Regions from separate parts of the Homo sapiens genome. Here region 1 is linked to region 2. The links come from fine-mapping of genetic effects on plasma protein levels. A gene starts in region 2. The other region holds a variant in brackets. All regions are shown on one strand. Distances are from middle to middle. Region 1 holds the start of KIF3B (kinesin family member 3B). Region 2 holds the start of POFUT1 (protein O-fucosyltransferase 1).

Region 1 (8,328 bases), 66 kb before region 2:
GCTCAGACTTCAAACTGCCCTCTTGGTCTCCCATCTAGGGTGCCCTAAGAATTCTCCCTCTCCCCATTTAGGGCACTTTCACATACACTTCTCATTATCTTTACCACTCTGAGCAGCAATGTTAGGACCCCATTGAATAAACAGGTCAGCTAAGGCCAGGGAGGTGAAAAGACTTGCCCAAGGTCACACAGCAAGCCCAGCACAGCGCCGAGGTTCGGACCCCAGGCTCTCGCTTCCCCGCCCTCCTCCCAAACTGGGGCCCTGACCACCGCCTCAGGGCCCCCAGGTGGGCTGCGACCCAAGGTGGCCGTGTCTGGGGGTCGGGCCGCGACCCTGCCAGGGGAAGGAGGGGCAAGGCCGTCCGGACTACCAAAGGATGCCTAGGAGGCAGGGCAGAGGATGCTCCGGCTCGCGGGACAGCAAAGCCAGGCAGAGGCGCGGGCGCAGGTCGCAGGGAAAACCCCAGGCGGCCACAGGATTAGCCCTGCTCGGTGGGCGCCCGGCCCCTCCGACTCACCTGAGGCCCGAGCCGAAAGCGGGCGGCGGCGGCGGCGGCGGCGGCGGCGGCGGCGGCGGGGGCGGCGAACCCCTGGCTCAGCCATTCCCCGCTGCCCCGGATGGGGAGAGACAGTGGCCGCTCACTTCCTTAGCAACCTGGCTCGGCGACCCACTTCCTTAGCAACCGGTGTCAATTTCAATAACTTTATTGGCACACGAGCAGAGGACAGGGAAAGCCGGCTGGAGGGGTCTGGGCGGGGCTCAGGTCGGTGCTGGTGTTTAGCGGGGGCCCAACACACCTCGGTCTCCTCACCCACCTAAGCGGGGAGAGTGGCGCACAACGTGGCCTGACTCCATCCTCTGGTATCTCGTGCCTCAGTTTCCCATCTGTAAATGGAACACACGCGATTTCAGCCGCCGTTCAACCTTTCTAAAAGCTTTCACATCCATTATCTGACTGGTGTCTCAAACTGCTACTGAGGTAACTCCCATTTAGGGTGCCCCCAGTGACTCAATACGAACACCTATAGGCACCCTTGTTGTAGCTTTCCTGTCCTTCACCCAATCCAGTCAGTCACAACCGCCCCAGGCAAGGCCAGGCCACGCTCATCTCTAGCCTGCCTGAAATATCTGGTCTGTTTCCATTCTTTTGTCCAGCTCTGTCCGAACAATCCATTTTCCATAAGGTGGCCAGAGTAATTATTTAAAACAGATCATGCGGCCAGGTGCGGTGGCTCCCGCTGTAATCCCAGCACTTTGGGAGGCTGAGGCAGGTGAATCACCTGAGGTCAGGAGTTCGAGACCAGCTTGGCCAACATGGCGAAACCCCGTCTCTAATAAAAATACAAAAAATTAGCCGGGCGTGGTGGCGCATGCCTGTAGTCCCAGCTACTCGGGAGGCTGAGGCAGGAGAATCGCTTGAACCCGGGAGGCAGGGGTTGCAGTGAGAGAGATGGCACCACTGCACTCCAGCCTGGGCGACAACAGCGAAACTCCGTCTCAGATATAAAGATTAAAATAAATAAATAAATAAATAAATAAATAAAACAGATCATGCCACTTTCTGATTAATACTCGATTTAATGGAGTCTCATTGCTCTTAGAATCAAATATGAAGTCCTTATTACTTCCTGCAAAATTCGTTAAAACTCTATTCCAACCACACTGGCCTAGAAGGGCAGGTTCCAACCCCCATGGAACTTACACCTGCTGTTCCCCACTAAATAGAAACTGCATAAGAGCAGTCTTTTATTTGTTCACTCTTGTATCCACCATGCCTGGAACCAAGCTTAGTCAATAGTAGTTGCTGAACAAATATGTTTTGCTCCTTGAATAAATGAATACCTGAGATGGTCTTCTTCATCTGCCTACAACTACTTTTTGCCTGTTGTGGCAGATATTGCTACTTCCTCTCAAAAACGTTATTTCTTCCTGCTCCTGGACACACAACTAGACAGTATTTCCCAGCCTTCCTTACAGTTCAGACCAAGTTCTGGCCAATTAAATGTGATGTGTGCTATTCTCAGGCCTGGCCCATTAAAACTCCCACATAATTTGATTTACACTTTCTCTACAGTGAAGAAGTTTATTTTTAAATAAAATAATAAAGGAAATACCAAAAGAGACTGCACCCAGCCTCTTTTGGTATTTCCTGAAGCTAATAATTGCCTCATTTTTTCCCCCCTTTCATTAGCTTTCTTTGCAGATATTGTTAATTTTTTCCTATGTGGTTAATAAATTAGACAAAATAATCAGCAGTGATTTTTCCAGATGTGTAACATAACAATTCGGCTAGGCATGGTGGCTCATGCCCATAATCCCAGCACCTTGGGAGGCTGAGGCAGGCAGATCACCCTGAGGTCAGGAGTTCAAGACCAGCCTGGCCAACATGGAGAAACCACGTCTCTACTAAAAATACAAAAATCAGCCAGGAGTGGTGGCAGGCACCTGTAATCCCCACTACTTTGGAGGCTGAGGCAGGAGAATTGCTTGAACCTAGGAGGTGGAGGTTGCAGTGACCCGAAATAACCCTATTGCACTCTAGCTTGGGTGACAAGAGCAAAACTCCATCTCACAAAAACAACAACAACTTAAAAAAAAAAAAAAAGTTCATGAGTTCTCTTTTGTTTTTTTCTCCTGAAGGCTTCAGCTCTGATCTGGACCAGTGCTCTCCAGGCCTACTGCACAGCTGTCATACTGAACTTTCCTATATCCTACACCTGGTTGGGATTCCCTGTGCCCTGGACCTTGTGTCTCAAACTTCTAGATTGTGGATTTACTCTGTCATCTCTGTGCAGCACATCTTTCTGTAGATTCCTGAGAAAGGTTGCAAAGAAGCAAATATATTTAGTCCTTGTATGTCTAAATATGCATTTATACTGTTTTCACACTTGATTAATAGTTTAGCAGGGTATAGAAATCTAGGCTGAAGGCCAGGCGCCATGTCTTATGCCTGTAATCCCAGCACTTTGGGAGGTCGAGGCAGGCAGATCACCTGAGGTCAAGTGTTTGAGACCAGCCTGGCCAACATGCTGAAACCTTGTCTCTACTAAAAATACAAAAAAAACATTAGCTGGGCATGGTGGCACATGCCTGTAGTCCCAGCTACTCGGGGAGGCTGAGGCAGGATAATCACTTGAACCCAGGAGGCAGAGGTTGCAGTAAGCCAAGATTGCACCACTGCACTCCAGCCTGAGCGACAGAGGGAGCCTCCATTTCAAAAAAAAAA[AAAAAAAAG/G]AAATCTAGGCTGAAAATTATTTCTCTCAGAATTTTTAAAACATTGCATTATTGTTTCTAGTATCCAGATTTAAGACATCTAATGCCATTCTTAATCCTGTTGCTTTATATGTGTCTTGTTCTTTTTTTATTTTTAATCTTTGAAAACTTTTAGGCTATCATCTTTATCCATAATGTTGTATTTGATGATGACTCCCCTCAGTGAGGCTTTTCCTCACTTGTGTTAGCTGGGCCTTTTCAATCTGGAGACTTATATCCCTCTAATCTAGGAAATTTTCTTGTATTATTTTTTCGATAATTTTCTCCCCTCCTATTTTTTTTTCCCCTGAAACAGTGTTGTGCTATGTTGCACAGGCTGGAATGCAGTGGCATGATCATGGCTCACTGCAGCTTCAAGTGATCCTGCCACCTCAGCCTCCCGAGTAGCTAGGACTACAGGTGCATACCACCATGCCTGAGTAATTTTTCTATTTTTTGTAGAAATGGGGTCTCACTGTGTTGCCCAGCTGGTCTCAAACTCCTGGGCTCAAGCAATCCCCCTGCCTCGGCCTCCCAAACTGTTGGGACTACAGGAATGAGACACCAGACTTGGCTCTCCCCTCCATTTTTTTCTCTTTCTGGAATTTCTCTTAGTCAGAAGTTATACTTTCCAAACTGAGTTTCTAATTTTCTCTGTTTTTCTCTTATTGTCCCTCTTTTTGGCTCTTTTGTTCTACTCTGTGGGAGATTTCCATCCATATCTTTATTTTTAGTGTCTATCTCTTCTATGGAAGAATCTGGGCTCACCTTTTAGTCATCAAATCAATATTCCCTGCAGACATTTGGGTCATAACTTCCTCCCCCTGTTAAGTCAGTTACTACTTCCCCTTCTGTCCCTGTTTTCTAAAAACTTGCTGAAATCCCTGGGCCACTAATGTCTCCTTTTCATTCCTATTCATGTTCTGGGTTAATACATTTTTTATTCCTTATTGCCATATAGATGGGGTTCGAGGGAGAAAAAAATAAATACGCATCATCAATCCACTATGTTTAACTGGATGTGTTTACTGCTATTTAACAAAAATGTATTGTGTTCTTCAAAACAGCTAGAAGACCTGAAATGTACCCAACACATAGAAATGATAAATACTTGGGTGATAGATAACCTAAATACCCTGACTTTATCATTACACATTCTATGCATGTAACAAAATTGCACATGTACCCCATAAATATGTACAAAAACTATTTAAAAATTTTTTTAAACAGGTAGGTAAAAGGTATGAACAGATAGTTCAGAGAAAAGGAATAGAAAATATTGCTTTTAAACATAGGAAAAGGAAAGATACTTATGCTTACTCATATTAAAGAAATGAAAATTAAAACAACTTTTTTTTTTTTTGAGACAGAATATTGCTCTGTTGCCCAGGCTGGAGTGCTGTGGCGCAATCTCAGCTCACTGCAACCTCTACCTCCCGGGTTTAAGTGATTCTCATGCCTCAGCCTCCTGAGTAGCTGGGATTACAGACATGTGCCACCATGCCTGGCTCATTTTTGTATTTTTCAGTAGAGGCAGGGTTTCGCCATGTTGACCAGGCTGGTCTCGAATTCCTGACCTCAAGTGATCCACCTGCCTCAGCCTCCCAAAGTGCTGGGATTGCAGGCATGACCCACTCACTGCACCTGGCCGAAAAAAGAACTTTGGTAAGGCATTGTTGATGACGGTCTGGTCTTGATTCTGTCCTTAGCAAGCTGAATAAAGCTGTGTATTGAAGTGGGATTAGTAGTAGTAGCTGTACAGTTGTAGGGTGACTAACTTGTTCTAGTTTGCACAGGTCTGTCCCTGTTTTAGCACCAAAAGTTCCATGTCCCAAGAAACTCCTTAGTCCAGGCAAACTAGGATGAGTGGTCACCCTAGTATGATGGGGTAACTTCTATATTACCAAGTATGTTTCCACTCCTGGCATTTCCTTTCCATACTGTGTCCTCTTTTCCATCTAACCTGGACTGTGAGGTATTTATTGCTCAGAAAAGAGTTATTTCAGTAGAAAAATAGAGAAAGGACTTTCTGAGCCCCAGAATCTTGGGGAGGAGACTCAGGGAATGAAAGAAGTTTTGAAAAGTCAGAGTAGGGCTTCCAAACCTCTCAATTCTGGAGATTTGCTCAGTTCAATGAAGGGGAGAGATGGTGAGGATGCAAAAAGAGGAAGGAGGCCAGTGGGGCTGGAAAAAAAGGGTCCTGGAGAGATCACATGGACCAGAGCAGAGATCCTCCTTCCTACCTCCCCAAGAGCAAACTCTAGCCTAGAAATGATCTAATTCCAGCGAGCACCATTGTGTCAGTTTATCATAATAATAGATATCATAAATAATAGAAACCAATTCTGATGGTAGCAGAAAAGGAATTTATTAGCAGGGTAGTAGGAAGGCCACAAAATCACCAGGAAGTTTCTAGAAGTGGCCACTAATAAGAAAGGCGAGGCCACGTGGGACCATGTACTACTGGACTTGTATGGTGAGAACACTAGTTGCCCTGCTTTCACCATGGCTACCTGGCCATGGGCACTGTCTCAAGACCATTCTCACCTTCCCTCTCCATAAGGATTCCCCACAGTCTCGACCTCTATAACCCAAGCCTTAATTGGTTGATCCTTGATCACATGCCCATCTCCTACCTGCAGTGGAAGCTGTAAAGACAAACATCTGACCTTTTGGCTTCTATGGTAGGAAGAAGACTGCCTTCCGTTCACAAAGTAAGGAGTCCCCAGACATAGGGAGGGGGTTCTGTTGCTAAGCGGGGGGAAGAATCCCTTTATAACCAGACATCCCCTTTGCCAAGAAACTCCGTTAGCCCTCCTCCTCAACGTCAGTCAGTGAGGACCCTCCTCCCCAGTGGCAGGCATGTCGCCCAGGGACCACCCAGCTGGAATTAAGCCCACTGTGTTATAAAATTTTGCTCAGTCTCCATCTGAGTTGTCCTGTGAGGATGCCCCACTTTAGTGACTAAGATAACCCAAATCCTGTATGACAGAGAAAGGCACTAGATACCTGGCGACTGGGTGGCAGCAGGGGAGTGTGGGAAAGGGCATGCTTGCATCTATCATGGATGGGGATGAATGGAGGCCAAACCAGGAGAAAGGTAAAACATAGCCCAGACACCCATGGATGGTTTTATTATGATCTCATCCAGGAAAAATAACTTCCGATGAACTCTCTACAAAGCTGACAAGTGGCAGATGGCCTGGCTCCCCATGCAAGGGTAAAATCACGATGTTTTCTTTCTTCTCTCACATTTGAGAGCAGCGCTGTCCAACAGATCTTTCCACCGTGGTGGACATGTTCTATATCTGTGCTGTCCAATAAGGCAGCCAACAGCCACATGTGGCTATTGAGCACTTGAAATGAGTCTAGTGCTACTGAAAAACTGAATTGTATTTATTTAATTTTAATTAATTTATGCCTAAGCAGCCACATGCAGCTAGTGGTTATCACATTGGACAGTGCATCTCTGAGCTATGAAAATGACAAGCATGGACTGCGGGGTCCAGACAGTCAAAGGTTTGAATCCCAGCTCCATTCCTTATGTGTTAGCTGAGTGACCCAGTGCACATCACTTGACCTCTCTGGGACTCACATTTCTCATATGCAAAGTGGAGCTAGAAATGCAACTGCTTAGGTTTGTTGTGAGGATTAACTAAAATATGGTCTGGGGCTGGGCACAGTGGCTCACGCCTGTAATTAGGGAGGCCAAGGCCGGTGGACTGCTTAAGCTTAGATGTTTAAGATCAGCCTGGGCAACATGGCAAAACCCTGTGTCTACAAAAAATACAAAAATTAGCCGGTCATGGTGGTGCACACCTGTAGCCCCAGCTACTCAGAAGGTTGATATGGGAGGATTGCTTGAGCCCAGGAAGTTGAGGCTGCAATCAGCTGAGATCACACCACTGCACTCCAGCCTGGGCAACAGAGCAAGATTCTGTCTCAAAAAAAAAAAAAAAAAAAAAAAAAAAAAAAAAAAAAAAAAAGATGCACTTAGTACGTTCTCCATGAATGGTGGCTGTCTTTCCTTTCTTTATCAGTGGAGTCATGGTGCCCTCCAGCAAAGCAATCACTGTAAATGTGAGAAGTCATGCTGGTGAGAGAGTTCAGTATTCCTGGAAATTTAATACCATTTGGGGAGGAGGGCTGAAGAGGGGTTGTATAAAAAGACTGCAAAGGGAACTATTTATTAGAATGCAAGGAGGTGACATCCCAGCGCCCCTTTCAGGAAGAAACAAGATGTAGGGCTTGGACTGAAGCCAAGCACCTGAGCTGTGCTTGATGCTTCTCACTTGGCGGAGTGCCCAGGTTCAGAATGGATGGAACTCTGGGACCTCAGGGAGGCTCTAAGGGCTGAGGATCAAGCTAATGGCTTCTAAATTCACATCTTTGATGTTTTCTGAAGAAAGCCAGACAGGAGTTGGCTGCTAATTGCTTCCTCCTCAGGCACTTAACTGGCTGTGTGATCTTGGGCAAGTGAGTTCACCCTCAGGACCTCGTTTCCCTGCCTGCTTCCCTCAGGGCTGCTGTGAGGGTTTACCCAGGGAATGGGTGTGAAATGCTTTCCCATTTGTAAGGCCCATACATAGTAATACTGAAATAAAGAAAACAATACTCTTTTTTTTTTTATTTTTTTGAGACACAGTCTTGCTCTTTCGCCTAGGCTGGAGTGCAGTGGCATGGTCTCGGCTCACTGCAACCTCCGTCTCCCGAGTTCAAGCGATTCTCCTGCCCCAGCCTCCCTAGTAGCTGAGATTACAGGCATGTGCCACCATGGCCAGCTAATTTTTTTTTTTTTTTTGTATTTTTAGTAGAGATGGGGTTTCACCATGGTGGTCAGCCTGGTCTCGAACTCCTTGACCTCAAATGATCCACCTGCCTCGGCCTCCCAAAATGCTGGGATTGCAGGCGTGAGCCACTGTGCCTGGCCAAGAAAACAGTGATATTAAAGTCTTAGAGCCAGGAGGAGGTCATAAAATCCCTTGACAGACCAAAACTACCACCTAGGTCCCAGGACCGGGTTTTATGTTACTTATTTGTATCCTCTGTGCTTAGCACAGTGGCTGGTGCACTGCA
Region 2 (8,328 bases):
ATGGTAATAATAGCAACTAATATTTATTGCATGTTGACACAGTGCTAGGTACTGCACTCATCACTTTACATAGATTTGCACATTTAATCCTGAGGTAGGAATATAACCATCTCCAGGTTACTTATGAAGAAACCCAAGCATACAGAATCTAGATAACATCTGAGGTCACATAGCTAGTAAGCAAACAGAAAGAGGAGAAACACTAACATCTAAACAGTGGGTGGAGAGAAAGGAGCCCCTGATACAGTGGAAAGAGGAAAATGCTGAGAGGTTAGATTGTAGCAGGGACAGGTGGTGTCTTGGAACAGGGAAGTTCAGGAAGGAGAAGCTTGCAGGGTCAAGTGCCAGTGGGAGGTCAGGTGAGAGAAAGACTGGGAAATAACCCCTGCCAATTTGGAGGTCACTGGTGACCTCAGTGAGAATGCTAACAGTGGCGAAGAAGAGCCTTGTTGGAGCAGGTTAGTAAGCCACAGAAAGCAAGGAAGTGGGGACTTGGAAAGACAACTGGCTGAGAAGGCAAGGAGACAGAGGCAAGCAAGCCAGAGGGAGATGGATGGGCAATGTCTACACTGTAATAGTGAGTGCGAGGCCAGGCGCAGTGGCTTATGCCTATAATCCCAGCACTTTGGGAGGCCAAGGCAGGCACATCATGAGGTCAAGAGATTGACACCATCCTGGCCAACATGGTGAAACCCTGTCTCTACTAAAAATACAAAAATTAGCTGGGCGTGGTGGTGCGCCTGTAGTCCCAGTTAATCAGGAGGCTGAGGCAGGAGAATCGCTTGAACCCGGGAGGCAGAAGTTGCAGTGAGCTGAGATCGTGCCACTGCACTCCAGCCTGGCAAGAGAGCAAGACTCCATCTCAAAAAAAAAAAAATAGTGAGTGCGAAATTATCAGAACATCAATGGTTTCCATTAACTGAGGACTCTAGGATCTGTACGTTGATAAGCTCAGTTGATTCTAAGAGGGAGGCGGCATATGACAACACTGAAGGCGTGTTACTGCCACTGACACATTCAGTCCTTACCACAAGAGGGTAACAAGAATCATTACCAGCTTATTTTTAAAATGAGGACACTGAGGCACAAAGAGGTAAAGTACCCTGTCCAGGCCATGCAACTAGTAAGAACCCAAGTCAGACTATGATCTCTGGTACTCTGGCTTTTGACTGCTGCTCAAAACCTCTGTAAATACTGGCATGCAAAGGAAAAAGTAAAATCTATGCAGAGAAAAGGTTGTAAGAATGAAATTAAGTGTTTTGTTCACACTAAGTATTATTTCTGATGTCTATTGGAAAATTATTAAGTCAATTCATCAAATACTAATTAAGTTCCTACTGCCAGGCTCCGGGAGATACAATATGAACAACGACACAAGGTCACTGGAAGACACAAAGAATAAGCAAGGAACTGGGGGCCGGTGAGCATCGCATGACAAGGGAGCCCCTTGATGGGGTGAGAGGCAGCACTGAAGCCAGACTACCTGGGTTGTGGCCTTGGACATGTCATTAAATAACCTGTGCCTGCATGTCTCCTTTAAAATTGATAATAGCATCTGCCACCCTTGGCCAATGGAATGCACAGAGGGTAGGACCAATCAGGGAAGGAAATGGAGGCTTTAGGTTCAAGTCACAGGCTCTGGAGTCAGACAAAGATAGCTTTGAATTCCAGCTCTCCTACTCACAGGCTGTGTGATCTTGGGCAAGTTACCTAACCTCTGTAAACCCCGGTTTCCTCACAGGCAAGTGATGAGGGTGAAATGAGCTAATTCTCATGCAGCCGCACACAACAGGTGCTGGATAAATAAATGTTAGGCATTGTTATTGCAGTGAAGACAGTTCTGGCTGGAGGTAGGGAAATCTCAGAGGAGTGGGAGGTAAAGCCCAGAGGACTTGAGGGTTAAGTGTAAGTAAGCAAGACTGAGAAAGGGCGGAGAAAGGCCAAGGTCAGTGGGAAGTACTCACGTTGGTGAAAGGAGGCTTGTGATGCTGGTACTCAATCCAAGGAGGGACAGCCAAGGTACGGTTTAGCAGCTTTGCAAATGCCAGAGAGCCCAAGAAGTGATCGGCCTGGTTCCCAAAGCGCCCTGGAAATGGTACATTGCGGGTGAGGTGAGGCCTGGGGCATGGAGGGCATAGAGCATGCAGGGCTCAGAAAGGTTGTGGAGCCAGGGGTAGAAAGTCAGGGATACCAAGGAGAACTAGGGGAGCTGGCAGCATAAGAACAAGTCTGGACTCTTGGGTCTGATATCCAAGGCTCTTCAGGTCCTGCAACAACTGCTTCCGCCACTCCAGGTTTCTTGCTGTTTCCCCAACATGCTCTACAATTCCCATCCCCACCCAATGCCTCTGATCTTGCTGTCCCTCAGCCAGAAGAGCTTCTACCTCTATCTCCATTCACCTGCACATGGACGGGCAACTCGAATGCCTCATTCACTGGGCTCCTTTCACCAATCCCCTGCCATACTCACTCTCCCTCCTTTACCTCCCACCTTGGCTCTGAGCTACTTCAGTTCTTCAATTTTCCTCAAGTATCTTTGCTCACTTCCTGGCCTTCGTACTGGCTGATTCCTCAGCCTGTGAATGCCTCAGAAGCAAGGACCCTGTGTGATTCCTTTTCTTAATCCCAGCATGGCACCTGTTCATTCATTTCACAAATATGATTGAGAGGCCACAATGTGCCAGACTCTGTGCTAGGTGCTGGGATACAGGAATGAACAAGAAGGACAAGGCCTCTGCCCCTAAGGCACTCACAGTTCACTGCAGAGACACTAAACATGTAAACAAATACATGAAAAATGTTGATAATTGCCAGAAAGAGATGAAAAAAGTTTGGTGATAGGGTAATGAGGAGATTACTTGGGTAGAGGTCAGTGAAATCCTTTCTGGTGACATTTAGGCTGAGATCTAAAGGATGGGAAACAGCTGGTCAGGCAGAAATGGAGGAGAGGATTCCAGGCATAGGGACCGCCACCTGCAGCAGTGCAGACTGGAAGACCTGAGCATGTGTGAGGAACGCAAAGGAGTTAAGTGTGGCTGCAGCTGGAGGATCAGCAGAGAAGGGAGTTGTGGAGATGGCCAGTGGAGGCCACATCATTCAGGGCCCTGAAAGTCATGGTCAGGAGTCTGGAAGCCACTGGGGGCCTTAAGATCATCCACTTCCACAATGATGATCCACCATACCCATTTCAACTGTGCACCTGGCATGGTCTTTAGATTCTCCCCTACCCTGCTCTCTTTATTTTCCCTTAGTATTCATCATCCTCTATGAAACTATGTATTTATTGTTTTATGTTTACCCCTTTTTGGGTTTGCTTGTTTCGAGACAGGGTCTCACTCTGTCACCCAGGCTGGCAGTGCGGTGGCACGATCAGAGCTCACTGCAGCCTCGAATTCCTCGGCTCAAGAGATCCTCCCACCTCAGCCTCCCAAGTAGCCGCCCAGATAACTCCCAAGGGACTACAAGCACACGATACCACGCTCTGCTTTTTTTTTTTTTTTTTTTTTTTGAGATTGGATTTTCACTATGTTGCCTAGGCTGATCTCGAGCTCCTGGCTTCAAGTGATCCTGCCTCGGTCTCTCAAAGTGGTGGGATTACAGAAGTGAGCCACCGCGCCTGGCCTACTTATTCTCAATTGTTTGTCTTCCCCAACTAAAATGAAGGCTCTACAAGGACACGGAGTTTATCTTATTCACTGCGGTATTCCCAGTACAGAGAACAGGGCCCGGCACAGAATAGGTGCCCCATAAATATTTGCTGAATCAATGAAAAATCACCAGGAGCCAGCGTGGGTCAGTGACATCAAGTCCTGCCCCACTAACTCCATTTACTGGACCCTGGACTGGCTTAGACCTCAAGCAAGTCACGTAACCTCTCCCAGCCTCAGTTTTCTCATCTGTCAAATGGAAAGTTGGACACGTTGGCCCCTCTGTGCCCTTGCAACTAAGGCAGAGAGGAGAAGAGCATGCCCCGTCCCGCTCTGAGGTTCTCTCCTGGACCTGTGAAGGTGTCTCTGGGCGCATCTGAGGAGTGGCTTTTCCTCTCCCGGCCTCAGTTTCTCCATCTGAGCAGAGGGCTTGGGAGGCCTTACCCATGCAGGGGCAGTAGAGCAGGTAACCGGCCGGGTCCCAGGAGCCCGCAGGCATCCCCGGGAGCGGCAGAAGCAGCAGCAGGAAAGACACGCTCAGCGGCCGTGCCCACGCGGCGGCGCCCATGTCGGCCCGGGAACCCGAGCCAGCCGCGGCGCACAGTCGGGGAGGGAAGGAGGGACGCGAGCGCCCGCCCCGCTCCCAGCGGTCCCTGCGCGCCGCCCGCGCACCGCCCCGGCCGCTCTAGCCCGCGGGCGGGCGGGACCATAGAGATCCCGCGGCACCGCCCCCTCCACGACCCGAGCGCCCGCTCGCGCGGCTCCCACAATGCACCGCACAATGGCCCGACCGCCGCCACTACCGGGGCCTGAGGGGGCCTGGCGGAGCCCGAGCGCGGCCCGGCCCGCAGCGTGGGGCCCCGAGCGCGGTGAGTGCCGGCGAGGGCCCCAGGGGACGGCGGGGAGAGGGGCGGGAGGCCGTCTCGCTGCGTCCGCGCGCCCTGTACCCGGAGCGGCGGCGCGCCTCATCTCGGGCCCCTCAGCGCGGTCGCCCACACCCCCGACCCGGGGCCCGGTCTGCGCCAACCCGGCCCCAGATAGGCCCTGGGGTGACGAAAACTCTCCCTGGACCCCATACCTGTGTCTGGGGGACCCGAGGAAGCCACCGGTCCCCTCCCTTCCGAGACCTGGAGACGCAGTCCTGAGGGTCCCCCATTCCCGACCCCTAGGCTCCCTGGAGACCCAGATAAGGCGCTGCTGACCTTACCAGGGACCCGGGTCTGGGGGACGCAGATAAGCTGCACCTGCTCCCTCCCTCCGACACGCCTACCCAGACCCACATAACCCCCTTTCCTGCTCCAGATAGCCCGCTCTGTACCCTGTTTCATTTTCCAGACTTACATAACTCCCTTTGAGGCTTCCCTCAAATATCTGGGTCTGGAGAAGTCGAATAAGCCCCACCTGTAGTTCCCTCCTCAGTGGCCATACTCCCAGGCTTTCGACATCTTCCATCCCGTTACCCATTTTGAGACCCTCTTGAAATTCAGAGGATACACTTCTGACTATCCCCATCCCCCCAGCCTTCCAGCCCTTATAATCCCCCATTTCATTCTTGTGGGGATCCCTTAGAGACCCAGGAAAGTTGCTCATGATTCCTTCCCATCCTCGCTCTTCCTTCCCATCCCAGAGACTCCCTCCAGACTTCTCCCTGGATTTCCTTTGCTTCTCCAGCCCTCATCCACTCCCATCTCTCCCAGGCTCGGGGAATTGAACCTTTCCCACACCACAGTGGGGTGATCTAAAAGTTGGCCTGGGACCAGGCTGTGGCCCACCTTGGTGGGGAGAAAGGGGCCTGTTAGGTGGAGGATATGGGGACACCTGTGTGGGGGAATCGGTGCTTTCACCTGCAAGCTTAGCCTGTCTCCTGGCTTGTGTGTTTTTCCACCTGTCAGCCATGGGACTGTGTGTAGAGTCTGGTCTTGGGTTTCTAACCTTTCTCTCCTAAGGTGAGGCCACCAGATTGGGAGCGGGGGTGTCGAATCACGTTTTCTCCCCATGAAAATGGGGTTGTGATGAGTTGCAGCCATTTGTTCAAGGCCTCCCCAGGAGTGGGAGGCAGCAGGAATCTGAGGAAATAGTGAATCAAAGAGACTCCAAAGAGGGCCCATCTACACTGACAGAAGAATTAGCAGCCTGAGAGTAAATCCAACCCCTGTTAATCCTGTTTGATGTTTCTTGGAATGGTGCAAGTCATTGAGACTCTCCAGCCTCCCTGTAATTTAATTCTCCCACCACTCTGGAGTGGGCGGGGGGGAAGGGGGCGACAGCATTCCCATTTCCCCTCTTCTCACTGTTTTCCAGCCAACCAGTGTGTTTTAGGATTTGTTTCTGGTTCTGAGATCAGGATCTGTTTTTTGTTTTGTTTTGTTTTGTTTTTTCTTTCCTCTAAGTCTATTTATAATTTCCCAGTTGCTATTTTGGGTTCTGCTTAAGGGAAGATTCTATCCCAAGGAACGTTCTGGGTCTATTTCCTCCGGCAGGTGTTGAATTGAGTTCTTCAGATCCCCAAGTAACTCTTGGGCAGGAGGATAAAAGCTATTTTAGGGTAGTCACTGAAGTGGAGCTGTTAATCCTCTGTGGGTCTCTTTAGTTAAGAACACTCAAAGATTAACCCTTTCCTTGTGCAGGGGTGTTATCTCTCAACTGTTTTTTAGGGGGGAGTGAGGAGAATTTGAGTGTGGCAGCAGAAGGTGGAAACATGCAACTCAATACAAAGACAAAGATAATAGCTCTCTTTTGTTGGGTACTTCTAGCAGGCCAAGCTCTGTGCTGAGCCCTTTGCATACCTCACTAAAATAATCCTTACAGCAAGCCTGTGAGGTAAGTATTTTTAGCTTTACAGATGAGGAAACAGGCTAATAATGGAGAAAGAACGCAGTTTCTATAGAGATGATGTAACACCATAAAAACTATAGTTTCATCAGAGAGCAGCAGGCATCATGGCCCATAACAGGGGACGGACAGACTGGGGAGAAATATGTCTCAGTTTCAGCTTTCAAAGAGGACCATACAGAGTTTTTAGCAAGCATTCCTGTTTGGGATATGGAGCCCTAATAATACAAGAGAGTATAGGAAAGTGGCTCTCTGCTTAAGAGAGAACTCTGGCCCAGGAGATGGTGCCTGGAGGGAGGTAAAGTAAGGGGCTCTTTAAAGGGGATGTGCCGAGGGTTAGTTGTGAGGGAAAAGGGGAAGACTGCATTCTGGGGGAGATGTTGGGAAAGGAAGGAAACTCACTCTGAGGCCTGAGAAGTAACATTAAAGAGGAAAAAAAGAAGTACTATTCAGGCCTCATGCGGAAAAAGAGGCAGACACAGCCGAGACCTCAGAGAAGGCACTGCATGTATTCAGAGCACACATTTTGTATCAGCCACTTTCAAGAGTATTATTTCATTTAATCCTCTATACGAATCTTACAGGTAAGGAAAATAAATCCGTATTTTAGAAATTGAGGAAACTGAGGTTCAGAGAAATAAAGTAACCTGCCTATGGTTTCCCAGCCAGTAAGTGGCAGCTCTTCTGATAGCAAGTCCAAGGTTCTTTCCCCTTTCAGATCAGGCACTAGAAAGAATCTTAGGCTGAAAATATACTGAGTTGTGCCAGTAACTGGGAAGGATTGTGTTTGTTTTATGGAAACAGGTTCTGTCAGCTTCTCTATAGTCTATAGTTGTTAAGATTAAAATGTGAGACCAGAAGAGCAGCTTTGAAAGAGAAGTAGAATTCTTTCACAGTTTTGCTGAGGAAGGACAAGTCTGAAGGAACAGGCCTTCTGCTTATGTAAGACAAACCCAGGAATCTTTCTGGATCAGAGGAGTTTTCAGACAAAGGGCAGAGAGAGACTAGATCCCCAAAAGGGTTCCTAGGTAACACTAGCAGCTTTGGTTATCCAAGAGGCTGCTGGTGACTGTAGGTAGGGACTTCCTGTGCCTTTTGAAAAGTGTAGGAGAGTAGGATCAGGGTGTTGGCTCTTTTCTTTGTGAAGACATAGCCCCATTAAAAGCAGATCAAGGTGAGCACATGGCTGCTGCTTTCCTCCTTTGGTTCTATCAGTACAAGCTCCTTAGCCACCACCAGCCTCTTTCCTAGAAGCCCATTACTCACTCTTTCAGTAGCAGCCTACTAAACTATTGTGTCTTGTTTGTGCTTGTTCAGGAGAACAGATGAGGTGGACGTGTGGGAGGTGGGGACGTAATGTTCTCTTTCTGAGTTTGTGTGGAGTTTCCAGGGCTAGGCTCCTCTCTCACATCAGCCAAATTGATGTGACTTGTTTCCTTCTGGCTGCCATTCCCAACTTTCCAGAGGCTGAGGTGCATGATTTCAAATTGAAGGGGGAGTAGAATTTGACTTTGAAGGTAGGGGTAATTCCCTCCAATCTAAACATGCACACTCGAGCACACTCTCTGCTCAATTCCAAGGTGCATAGTAATTGCTGGTATTACAAACAGGTAATTCCACCCTTGCAAAGGAGGAGGGGACTTAAACAATGAAAGCCAGACGTCACAGGCCTTTGAGGTTTATAGTGAAGCAGGCACATATGCCATAATGACTTGAAGGCTCAAGTGGGACTAGTTTTTAGTGCTACCTACCCCTCCCCAGCATGTGATTCATGCAAAATGCAGCCACCTTAATGCAGATCTTTCTAGACAAATCTACACTCGTGATGGGGACGTGTTTATCATATTAC

The links. PIP is the posterior inclusion probability: the model's chance that the variant is causal. Protein levels are from the aptamer-based SomaScan assay of Sun 2018.
Region 1: its variant is fine-mapped to the plasma level of the POFUT1 protein (Sun 2018, PIP 0.95).

The regions. Positions count from the first base shown.
Region 1 is chr20:32,269,955-32,278,282 of GRCh38, reverse strand. It overlaps KIF3B (kinesin family member 3B), which reads right to left and starts at 632. Exons shown (of 9, transcript NM_004798.4): 1 at 518-632. LOC124904885 (a long non-coding RNA gene) reads left to right here and starts at 740. Exons shown (of 2, transcript XR_007067561.1): 1 at 740-979; 2 at 2,641-2,864. RefSeq lists silencers at 257-436, 457-616 and enhancers at 270-780, 827-876, 7,390-7,921. The variant AAAAAAAAG/G (reference allele first, on the strand shown) is at 3,227.
Region 2 is chr20:32,203,829-32,212,156 of GRCh38, reverse strand. POFUT1 (protein O-fucosyltransferase 1) reads right to left here and starts at 4,277. Exons shown (of 7, transcript NM_015352.2): 1 at 4,092-4,277; 2 at 1,965-2,086. The coding sequence starts at 4,215. It overlaps PLAGL2 (PLAG1 like zinc finger 2), which reads left to right and starts at 4,414. Exons shown (of 3, transcript NM_002657.3): 1 at 4,414-4,516. RefSeq lists enhancers at 3,938-4,067, 3,530-4,443, 6,359-6,408 and a silencer at 4,208-4,627.